Linked DNA regions of Homo sapiens: region 1 is linked to region 2. The links come from fine-mapping of genetic effects on gene expression. A gene starts in region 2. The other region holds a variant in brackets. All regions are shown on one strand. Distances are between the middles of the regions.

Region 1 (5,375 bases), 54 kb before region 2:
AGCAAGACTCCATTTCAAAAACAAACAAAAAAATAGAGATGATATGGACCCTACTTCAGGTTTGTTGACAGCAGTTAGTGAGAGGCTACAAGTCAGGGATTTAAGCCAGAGCCTGGTGGACGTGGGTCTGATTGGTATGCCTGTTATTAAAAGTATAGGCTCTGGCCGGGCGTGGTGGCTCATGGCCGGACGCAGTGGCTCATGCCTGTAGTCCTAGCACTTTGGGAGGCCGAGGTGGGTGGATCAACTGAGGTCAGGAGTTCAAGACCAGCCTGGCCAGCATGGTGAAACCCTGTCTCTACTAAAAATACAAAAATTAGCTGGGTGTGGTCGCGGGCACCTGTAATCCCAGCTACTTGGGAGGCTGAAGCAGGAGAATTGCTTGAACCCTGGGCAAAAGAGTGAAACTCCATCTCAAAAAAAAAAAAGTATAGGCTCTGGACATAGTTCCACTGTTTCCTACCTCCAGGACCCTGGGCAATTTATGGACTCTGCCAAGCCTCAGTTTCCTTATTTGTAAAATAGGGAAAACAATAGTACTCACATCACAGGGCTGTTGAAAGGATTAAGTAGATACACATGTGAAGTACAGTACTTACCACGACTGGCGCAGAGTAAATGCTCAGTAAATCACTCATTCACTTATTGGACAAATACTGAATGAGCACCTATTGTTTGCCAGGTGCTGTTCTAGGCGCTGAGGATGCAGCCGTGCACAAGACGGATGAAATCCCTGCCCTCAGGGGGCCGACATTTGCGGAGTAAATAAAGGAAAGGTAAATATCTTCCACGTCAGATTGAAAAATAAAGTCAGAAAGGGGATTTGCCATTTTATTTTTTGTAGAGATGGGATCTCGCTATGTTGCTCTGCCTGGTCTCAAACTCTTGGCCTCAAGTGATCTTCCCACCTTGGCCTCCCAAAGTGCTGGGATTACAGCCATGAGCCACTGCCCCTGGCCTGGTTTGCTACTTTAAATTGGGGTGGAGGGAGGGTAACAGGGAAGGTGTCTCTGAGATGATGCTGGGCAGGAGCCGAGGGGGTTGTGGTGCCAGAGCTGCTGATAGCTGTGTTCTTATGACCTGCATCCTGATGGCTTCTGAGTCCTGGTTCCTCTGAGGCCTCTGCAGCCTGCTTCCGGGCAGGGGGCCACACCTGTGCTCACCTGTCCTGGTTTGCCTCCAGCACTGTGTCCTGGGCTGCCCTCGTGGGGCAGGGCTCTAACAAGGGGGAGAAGGCCCTGAGGAGGTGCGGGTGAGGCCAGGTGAGAGGCACAGAGGATGTCCTGGCGCCTCCTGCTCCCCTCTCCCCACCTGTGACCTCACCTCACTCTTCTGCGTCCTGGCCCAGAGCACTGGGACCTCATCCCAGTATCAATCAGGATGCCTCCCTGATGTCCCTGGGCACCTCTCACTCACCTTGTCCCAAACTGACCTTGGCATCTTCCCCCAGAAGTGTATCTTCCCCTGGTGCCCTTATCAGGGAAGGCGCCACTACCCACCTCATCGCTGGGAAAAGAGACCTGGGGCCTCATCCCTGATGCCTCCCCCTACTCCCCGAACACGCCACCCCTTCTGGCAACTGACTCTACGTATATCTTCTCTCCCTCCCTGAAGCCCCTGCCCTGGTCTAGGTGACCACTCCACCACCCCACCTTGCCTGGGTCCTCCTGTCTCCCCACCAGCCTCCTCCCTAGTCTCTGGCCCTGGTCTCCCCGACTCCCATTGCCCCTCCACATGGCAGACAGAGGCTCTTTCCAAAACAAAAACCTGCCTCTGCCCCTCCGTGCTCAGAACCTGCTGTGGCTCCCCAGTGCCCTTGGGAGGAAGCCCAGGTTCCTCACTGTAGCCCAGGAGGCCCTGCCCGGCCTGACTCCTGCCCACCTGACCAGCTACATAGAATACCACTTGCTTCCGGGAACCCTCTGCTTCAGTTCTTCTGTTTCACTTGCACTCTACCCAGAATATCCCTGCTTCCCTCTGCTCTATTCCACTGCCTTCCCCAAACCCTCTCCTCCAGGAAGCCCTCCTGGACTTCAGGGCCTGGAATTCCCTGTCTCAGCCCTGACTGCCTTGGGTTCTCGCTGTCTGGGGCTGGGTCTTTTTCCCCCACTGGCCTGGGAGCCTCAGCTGGGCACGGCTGGGCTGTCACCACTGTGTCCCCAGCACTGCCCAGCAAATCACCTGGCACAGAGCAGAGGCTCACAGCATGTTTGTGGAACTGGACACCAGGTGTGGATGACACAGAGAGAGGAGTCTTCAGAGAGGCTCAGGTTCCTGGTGATCTGCTGTCTGCCTGCGGAGTGTGACCAGGCCGGGCTCTAGAGGCCCTCTATCGTCACATCCACCCTTCCTAGTCTGCCCCCATCCTCCACCTCCCTGGCCCCTCCTCTGGTGCTCCCGGCTGTGAGCCCAGATCCTTGGTTCAGTCAAGAGCTGCAGGCTCTTTAGCACCTGCTGTGCGCCGCCGGGCTGCGCAGAAAGCAGACGGGGTTCTTGTGGGCAGGGGCTTTTTCCTGTTTGTGCAGTGGGTGGGGGGTGTTCATGACATTGACTTCCCTGGGACTCTTCTGAGGATCAAAATAGGCACATGGAGTGTTCCGTGCCGGGCCTGCCTCAGAGCACGTACTGGGGGCACAGTGGTCGTTGTTCCTCCACCATTTGACAAATGTTTATGGAGCACCAACTATGTGCCGGGCACTGCGCTAGGCGCTGTGGGGTTACAGCCGTGAATACGGTAGACACAGAGCTGACCTATTGATTGGGGAGACAGTTAATAGACGAATACAAACATGAGCAGTGTTAGAACAGGTGGGGACAATGCTGTGGAGAAAAATAAAGCAGGGGAAGGGATGGAGGTGGTCGGGGCACTGGTTTATGCAGGGCAGCAAGGCGACATTGTCAGAGCGACATTGGAGTAGAGGTTCAATAAGGGGGGCCGGGCGCGGTGGCTCACACCTGTAATCCCAGCATTTTGGGAGGCTGAGGCGGGAGGATGGCTTGAGCCCAGGAGTTC[G/C]AGACCAGCCTGGGCAGCGTAGAGCACGTCTCTACAAAAAAATTTAAAAATGAGCCAGGAGTGGTGTTGCACGCCTGTAGTCCCAGCTATTTGGCAGGCTGAGGTAGGAGGATCGCCTGAGCCCAGGAGGTTGAGTCTGCAGTGAGCTGTGATCTCACCACTGCACTCCAGCCTGGGCGACAGAGCAAGACCTTGTTGTCTCATTAAGAAAAAAAAAAAAAAAAAAGAGCGCATGCATACACAATAATGTAAAACAGATAATCAGTTTTTTATATTGATTCTGTGCTGAAATGACATTTTGCATATGTTGTGTTAAATACATTCGTTTCACCTTTCTTCATGAGATGAGGCTGGAAAAGGTTGAATTGTGTTTGCGGCTCCACTCTTGCTCCTGTTGGGTAGTGCTGGACCAGGCAGGAGGTAGTGGCGGCTGAACCAGGGATGGGAGAAGTGGTCAGCTTGTAGATGTATTCTGCTGATATCATTCTTCTTCTTCTTCTTCTTCTTCTTCTTTTTTAAATGGAGTCTTGATCTGTCATCCAGGCTGGAGTGCAGTGGTGCGATCTTGGCTCACTGCAACCTCCACCTCCCAAGTTCAAGCGATTCTCTCACCTCAGCCTCCCGAGTAGCTGGGATTACAAGCATGCGCCACCATGCCTGGCTAATTTTAATATTTTTAGTACAGACAGGGTTTTGACATGTTGGCCAGGCTGGTCTCAAACTCCTAACCTCAAGTGATCCACCTGCCTTGGCCTCTCAAAGTGCTGGGATTACAGGTGTGAGCCACCGTGCCTGGCCCATTATTCTTTTTGACAGCTTCAGCTTTTCCTGTTATCCATCTCCCCGCTGCCCACCCCCAAGAAAACCCATTTTGCAGACAAGTAAACTGAGGCCCCGGGCCATTGCCTCATAAGATTGGAGCAGATGAGTCTTATCTTCTCTGCACAGCCATCTGGGGACACGGGTCTATGACCTTGTTTGGTCAGGGTCACCCCTTGCCCGCCCAGCCCTCTTGTCTCACCAGTCACTTAGTTTCCTTGGGAGCGGGAGGGAGGCTGGGAACTCCTTTATCTGCTCTTCAAGACCCTGCCCACCACTGACATCATCAATATATATTAGATGTAAACGTCAGACTTGGGCCTCCGTGGCAGAATCCTTGTCCTGTCCTCTCTGGGCAGGGGTGGGGAGGCCTTGAGACTGAGGGTTTGGCTGGAGCTAATGTCTTAGGCTGAAGCAGGTTTCCAAACCCCTTTCAACCTCCCCTTATCTTGGGCGAGGCAGAGGGGGCCGTCATATTTGCTCAGGGTGTGGCTTCCTGTGCCGGCCTGTCAAGGCCTGGAGTTGGCTCTGGCTGGGCCTGGAGAGGTTGTTCTTGGGGAGAAAGGACCAAATGTCCCCTTAATTCCTGACCCTAGAAAGAACACCCAGGTGGCCAGGCGTGGTGGCTCACGCCTATAATCCCAGCACTTTGGGAGGCCGAGGCGGGTGGATCACCTGAGGTCGGGAGTTCGAGACCAGCCTGACCGACATGGAGAAACCCCACCTCTACTAAAAAAAATACAAAATTAGCCCGGTGTGGTGGTGGGCACCTGTAATCCCAGACACTTAGGAGGCTGAGGCAGGAGAATCACTTAAGCCCGGAAGTCAGAGGTTGCTGTGAGCCGAGATCACACCACTGCACTCCAGCCTGGGTGACAGAGTGAGACTCTGTCTCAGAAAAAAAAAGCACCTAGGCTTCCATGCAGGAGAGGAGGCAGGTGGATCGGAGAAGCTCCAGACCTTTCCATAGGCTGTTCCCTGTGCTTGGATACCCGTCCCCACCCTCCTCACCTCATTCATCTGGGTTTTTCCAAGCCATTCAATCATTTAACAAATATTTGTCAAGCATGGACTATGTACCAGGCTGTTTGCACAGAGACATCCTTTCCTTTGTTGGGCTAAATCCTATTGGAGGGAGATGGGCAATAATAATAATAAAAAAAACCTGATATGGCATTTAATGTCAGGCAGAGATAAAAGCTATAAAAAGTAAAATAGGTCAGGTGCAGGGGCTCACGCCTGTAATCCCAGCACTTTGGGAGGCCAAGGTGGGTGGATCGCTTAGGCCAGGCGTTTGAGACCAGCCTGGGCACCACAGTGAGATCCTATCTCTACAAAAAAGTACAATAATTAGCCAGGCGTGGTGGTGGTGTGCACCAGTAATTCCAGCTACTTGGGAGGCTAAGGTGGGAGAATTGCTTGAGCCTAAGAGGTGGAGATTGCAGTGAACTGAGATTGCACCACTGCATTCCAGCCTGGGCAACAGTGTGAGATTGTGTCTCAAAATAAATAAAATTAAATAAAATAGGGCAAGTGGATAGAG
Region 2 (5,334 bases):
AGGCAAGCACTACTGTTAACATCATTTTACAGACAGGGAAACTGACACAGAGTATAGTGTCCTCCAAGTCATACAGAGGTTTAGTGGCAGAGGTGGGATTTGAACTTGGGCGGTCAGAGACTGACCTCTAATCCCCCAGGTCCTATATAAAAATCTTTCTGCTAAGGGCCCTAGCACATAGTAGGTCCTCAAAATGTGACAGCGCTTATTGACACTAATAAACATGGTCCTATGCATTCTTTTTTATTTTTAAATTTTTATTTAGTTAATTATTTTTGTAGAGATGGGGTCTTGCCATATTGCCCAGGCTGGTTTTGAATTCCTAAGCTCAAGTGATCCTCCCACCACAGCCTCCCAAAGTGTTGGGATTACAGGCATGAGCCACTGTGCTTGGCTGCAACCAGCCTGGGCAGCATAGCGAAACCCTGTCTCTACCAAAAATACAAAAAAAATTAGCCAGGTGAGCACCTATAATCCCAGCTACTCCAGAAGCCACAGTGAGAGGATCGCTTGAGCCTGGGAAGTCGAGTTTGCAATGAGCCGGGATTGTACCACTGCACTCCAGCCTGGGCAACAAAGCAAGACCTTGTCTCTCTCATACACACACACACATACACGCACACACGCACTATATATATATATATATATATATATATATACACAAAACATATAAATAAATAATAAAATATGTTATCTATTTACTCTTTAAATGTATAATAAAATATATATTATTTATTATATAAATAATATATGTTATAAATATATAATATATTTAATATATATTTATTAAGAAATATATTATTATATATTATCAATTATATAATACATAATACATATTATATATTATAATAATATATATAATATATAATATACATATTATATATTATAATAATATATATAATATATAATATACATATTATATATTATAATAATATATATAATATATTATAATATATTATATATTACTATAATATATATTATATATTTTATTATATATTATATATTACTATAATATATATTATATATTTTATTATATATTATATATTACTATAATATATATTATATATTTTTATTATATATTACTATAATATGTAATATATAATAATAATATATAATATATATATTTATCAGGAGTTTGAGACCAGCCTGGCCAACATGGTGAAATCCTGTATCTACTAAAAATACAAAAATATTAGCCAGGCATAGTGGCACATGTCTGTAATCCGAGCTACTCGGGAGGCTGAAGCAGGAGAATCGCTTGAACTCGGGAGGAGGAGGCTGCAGTGAGCCGAGAGCAGGACACTGCACTCCAGCCTGGGTGATGGAGTGAGACTGTCTCAAAAAAAAAAAAAAAAGAATGAAAGAATGAATGAATGGCCAGGCCCCTGGAGTCAGACATTGGGGGTCAGAGGGGTAATGGTGTCAAGTGTCACCCACTGTCCTCCTCCCCAACATCAACCATCCCCTCCGTCCAGACCCAGCCTGCCAGCACGCTGCTGGGTTATGGCCTGGGTATGCTGAGCAGGAACCTGGGTAAGGTAATCCGGCATGCGTCACCATCTGCTGATTTTCCGGGATTCACTTGCCTTTTTGGGAAATTTCCTCACCCAACTCCATCCCCTTTCCGAGGGGCCCAGAGGAGGGTCTTGTGCCCGACCCGTGTTGCTGCCAATTTCGAGGAATTTCTGTACCCAACTCCGACCGCTCTCCGGGTGGCCAAGAGGAGGGTCCTGCCCTCGCACCCTCGCACCGTGTTCCTTCCAACCCCGGGGCAGAGATGGGGGGTGGGTGGCGCCGGGCGGGGCCGTCATCTTCGGGAACCCAAGGGGGCGAGTACCCGGCCTGGATGCGGAGCTGGGAGCCAGACAGGGGCCACCGGACTGCGCGGGGGTCACTCACCGGTTCCTGGGGGTGGCCAGGACAGCACCAGTAGCGCCACCAGCAGCAGCGGCCACGCGGCGGCCATGGCTCGGGCCATGCCAGTTGCTCCGAGCAGCTGGGCCTCCCGCGGGCGTCTCCTCGCTTCCCGGCGCCCGCTCGCTCTGCCGCGGTCGCTGCGAGTCCAGCTCCCGGAGCTCAGGTCCTGGAATCCCCGGGGGGCCGCTCCTCCAGTGCCTGGGGTGGGAAGGGGAATACCCACTTCTTCAAGCTCCAGACAAGTGACTGGAGCGGAGGGGAGTTGGCGGCCAGTCCCGCCAGGCGCGGGGTGGGCCACCCAGGCTGGCCCTCCCCGCGCGCCTGCGCCTGCGCAGGTCTCTCCCGGCGCTCAGTCCCGCTGCAGACGCGCGCTCGCTCCGTCGGTGCCCACTAGAAGAGGCGGCTTCCTGTGTGAGGTCGCCCACATTCCAGGTGAGGAAACGGAGGCACACGGAGAGATTCAGCAACTTACTAACGGCTCGCGGTTGCCGAGTGGCAGAGCTGAGGTTCCAACTCGTGATGGGACAGATCCTGAGCCCACCAGGCTGTCCTTCCACGCAGCCTAAACTTCCCATGGGCTTTGGGGTCAGACAAGACCAGGGCTCATGTTGGGCAAGTGGTTTCTCCTCGAGGGCCCTCAGATTCTTTATCTGAAAAATGGGCATAGTAGGGCGCGGTGGCTCAGGCCTGAATTCCAGCATTTTGGGAGGCTGAGGCAGGAGGACTGTGTGAACCCAGGAGTTAGAGGCTTCAGTGAGCTACCATTGCGCCACTACACTACAGCTTGGGTGGCAGAGCCAGACCTGTCTCAAAAAAAAAAAAAAAAGTTTGGGGGCTGGGGGAGCAAGCGCAGTGGCTGACGCCTGTAATCCCAGCACTTTGGGAGGCCGAGGCAGGAGGATCACCAGAGGTCCAGGAGTTCAAGACCAGCCTGGCCAACATGGCAAAAACCCATCTTTACTAAAAATACAAAAATTAGCCGGCATGGTGGCACATGCCTGTAATCCCAGCTACTGGGGAGGCTAAGACAGGAAAATCACTTGTACCCGGGAGGCAGAGGTTGCAGTGAGCCAAGATCGGGCCTCTGCACTCCAGCCTGGGCGACAGAGTGAGACTCTGTCTCAAAAAGAAAGAAAAAAGGGCATACTAACAGTACTTACCTCACAGCGTGGTCTGTAAAACTTAAACAAGAAACTGCCTAGCTCAATTTCGGGGATATAGTTTGTACTAAATAAAAAGCTGATATACCAACAATAGCAGCAGTGGCAGTGACAATTATTATTATTGTTGCTTTACAGTTGGCATCAAATAATAATGTTCATGAGAATGGTCATTCATTCATTCTTCATTCAGCATATATTTATTGATCCAGCCAGTATCCCAGGCACTGGGTATACAGCAGAAAATAAGACAGACAAAAATCTCTGCCTTTAATGAAGACCGTGTTCTAGTGGAGGGAAACAGACCATAAACAGATTAATACCAGAACTCCATCAGGTCTGGGGAAGATAAGGGTTATGGACCAGCCTGCAGTAGGGAGAGGGGAGGAGGGAGGGGGGAGAGAGAAAGAGAGAGAGAGAAAGAGAGAGAGAGAAAGAGAGAGAGAGAGAGAGAGAAATGAGAGAGAAACAGACACACTCAGAGATAAGGGCTGGGAGACAGAGACAGAGAGATTGAAAGAGATAGAGACACAGCATAGACAGAGGGAGATGAGAGAGAAATGAGAGGTGACAGAGAGACTCAGAGAGCCAAACCCTCAGAGACAGAAACTGAGAGACTTCCTGGTCCCCAGAGGTGGCTGTCCTGGCCAGGGTCTCCATGAGGCCGACTAACAGCTCTGGTCCCTGTGCTCTGACATCTTTATATGTTTTTTATTTTTATTATTATTTTTAGACAGGGTCTCACTATTTCACTGAGGCTGGAGTGAAGTGGCGCCATCATTGCTCATTGCAGCCTCCACCTCCTGGGCTCAACTCCTGCCTCAGCCTCCTGGGTAGTTGGGACCACAGGCATATGTGATCACACCCAGCTAGTTTTTAAATTTGTTGTAGAGATAGGATCTCGCTATGTTGCTCAGGCTGGCCTTGAATTCCTGGCCGCAAGCGATCCTCCCACCTCGGCCTCCCAAAGTGCTAGGATTGCAGGCATGAGCCACTGTGCCTGGCCCCACATTCCTGTATCTTTCTGTAAAATCCTTCCTTTGGCTTTTGGCTGGCTTGGAGGTTTCTGTCCCCGGGTGCCCTCTCTAACTTGGATCTGATGCTTGTGTATGACACATCTGATGCTTGGGGTCTCTCACCCTGGATGTATGTAGGTGAATTTCTAAATGGAAACAGGGAGGCTAGTCTCTTGGAAATCTCTGAATTTTCTGTCAGTGTTGTTTTGCTGAGTTATTTCCAAATTGGGAATCTGTGGCCATCGTTATGTTCCTCCTCTGGATGATGCTGTCACCATCTGGGATTCCCCCACTTCTCTGGGCTCCCAAGCTCCTGTGGCTCCAGGGACTCCTCTCAGGGCCCTGGAGGGTCAGAGGCTGCTCCGAAGAAGCAGGCTTAGAAGAAAAAGCAAGTTTGGTTCGGGGCATATCTGCTTGCTTCTGTGTGTTTCTCTGTCAAGAGTCTAAATTCCTTGAGTGTTTGGACCAGTTGTAGACATTTTCTTCACTCAAGTGCTGAAATATCATCTGATAAAATAGTGAATGGAGATCTCCAATGGGCATCTTATTTTTTGTGTGTGTTTGTTTGTTTTGAGACAGTCTTGCTCTGTCTCCCAAGCTGGAGTGCAATGGCGTGATCTCGGCTCACGGCAGCCTCCGCCTCCCAGGCTTAAGTGATTCTTGCGCCTCAGCCTCCCAAGTAGCTGGAATTACAGGCCTGCACCACCATACCCAGCTAATTTTTTTGTGTTTTTAGTAGAGATGGGGTTTCACCATGTTGGCCAGGCTGGTCTCGAACTCCTGAACTTAGGCGATCCACCCTCCTCAGCCTCCCAAAGTGCTGGGATTACAGGCGTGAGCCACCATGCCCAATGGGCATCCTCTTGATGCTGTGGTTTTCAAACTTCTGGATCCAAAAGGATCATCAGGAAGCTTGTGTAATTAAGCAAATATGAATCCATTTCCTTATTCTTCCCTCTCCCATTAAAAAATAAAATGGTAGCATTATTCTGTATCTTTCTGTTTTTCACTTAGCAACATATCTTGGTGATTTTCCCATAGGCAGATATATTGAGCTACCTCATTCATTCATTCACAAATGTGTACTATTCCATTACATGAATGCACCGTCATTTTTGAAACTGTCTTCAGGGGATGGGCTTTTTGGGTGTTTCCAGCCCTTTTGTACTTGCAAACTGTGCTTCCCTGGGTCATCATGTCCATGGCATTTCCCATGTATGTAACAGTATCTGTCATATTTA

The links. PIP is the estimated chance that this variant, and not a neighbour inherited with it, causes the effect.
Region 1: its variant is the best candidate, but not a certain one, in a credible set for the expression of PVR in tibial artery (GTEx, PIP 0.73).

The regions. Positions count from the first base shown.
Region 1 is chr19:44,694,485-44,699,859 of GRCh38, reverse strand. CEACAM16 (CEA cell adhesion molecule 16, tectorial membrane component) reads right to left here and starts at 709. Exons shown (of 7, transcript NM_001039213.4): 1 at 600-709. CEACAM16-AS1 (CEACAM16, CEACAM19 and PVR antisense RNA 1) reads left to right here. Exons shown (of 2, transcript NR_186815.1): 2 at 683-822. RefSeq lists an enhancer at 2,537-3,142. The variant G/C (reference allele first, on the strand shown) is at 3,014.
Region 2 is chr19:44,640,741-44,646,074 of GRCh38, reverse strand. It overlaps PVR (PVR cell adhesion molecule), which reads right to left and starts at 2,165. Exons shown (of 8, transcript NM_006505.5): 1 at 1,900-2,165. The coding sequence starts at 1,978. RefSeq lists a silencer at 2,134-2,213.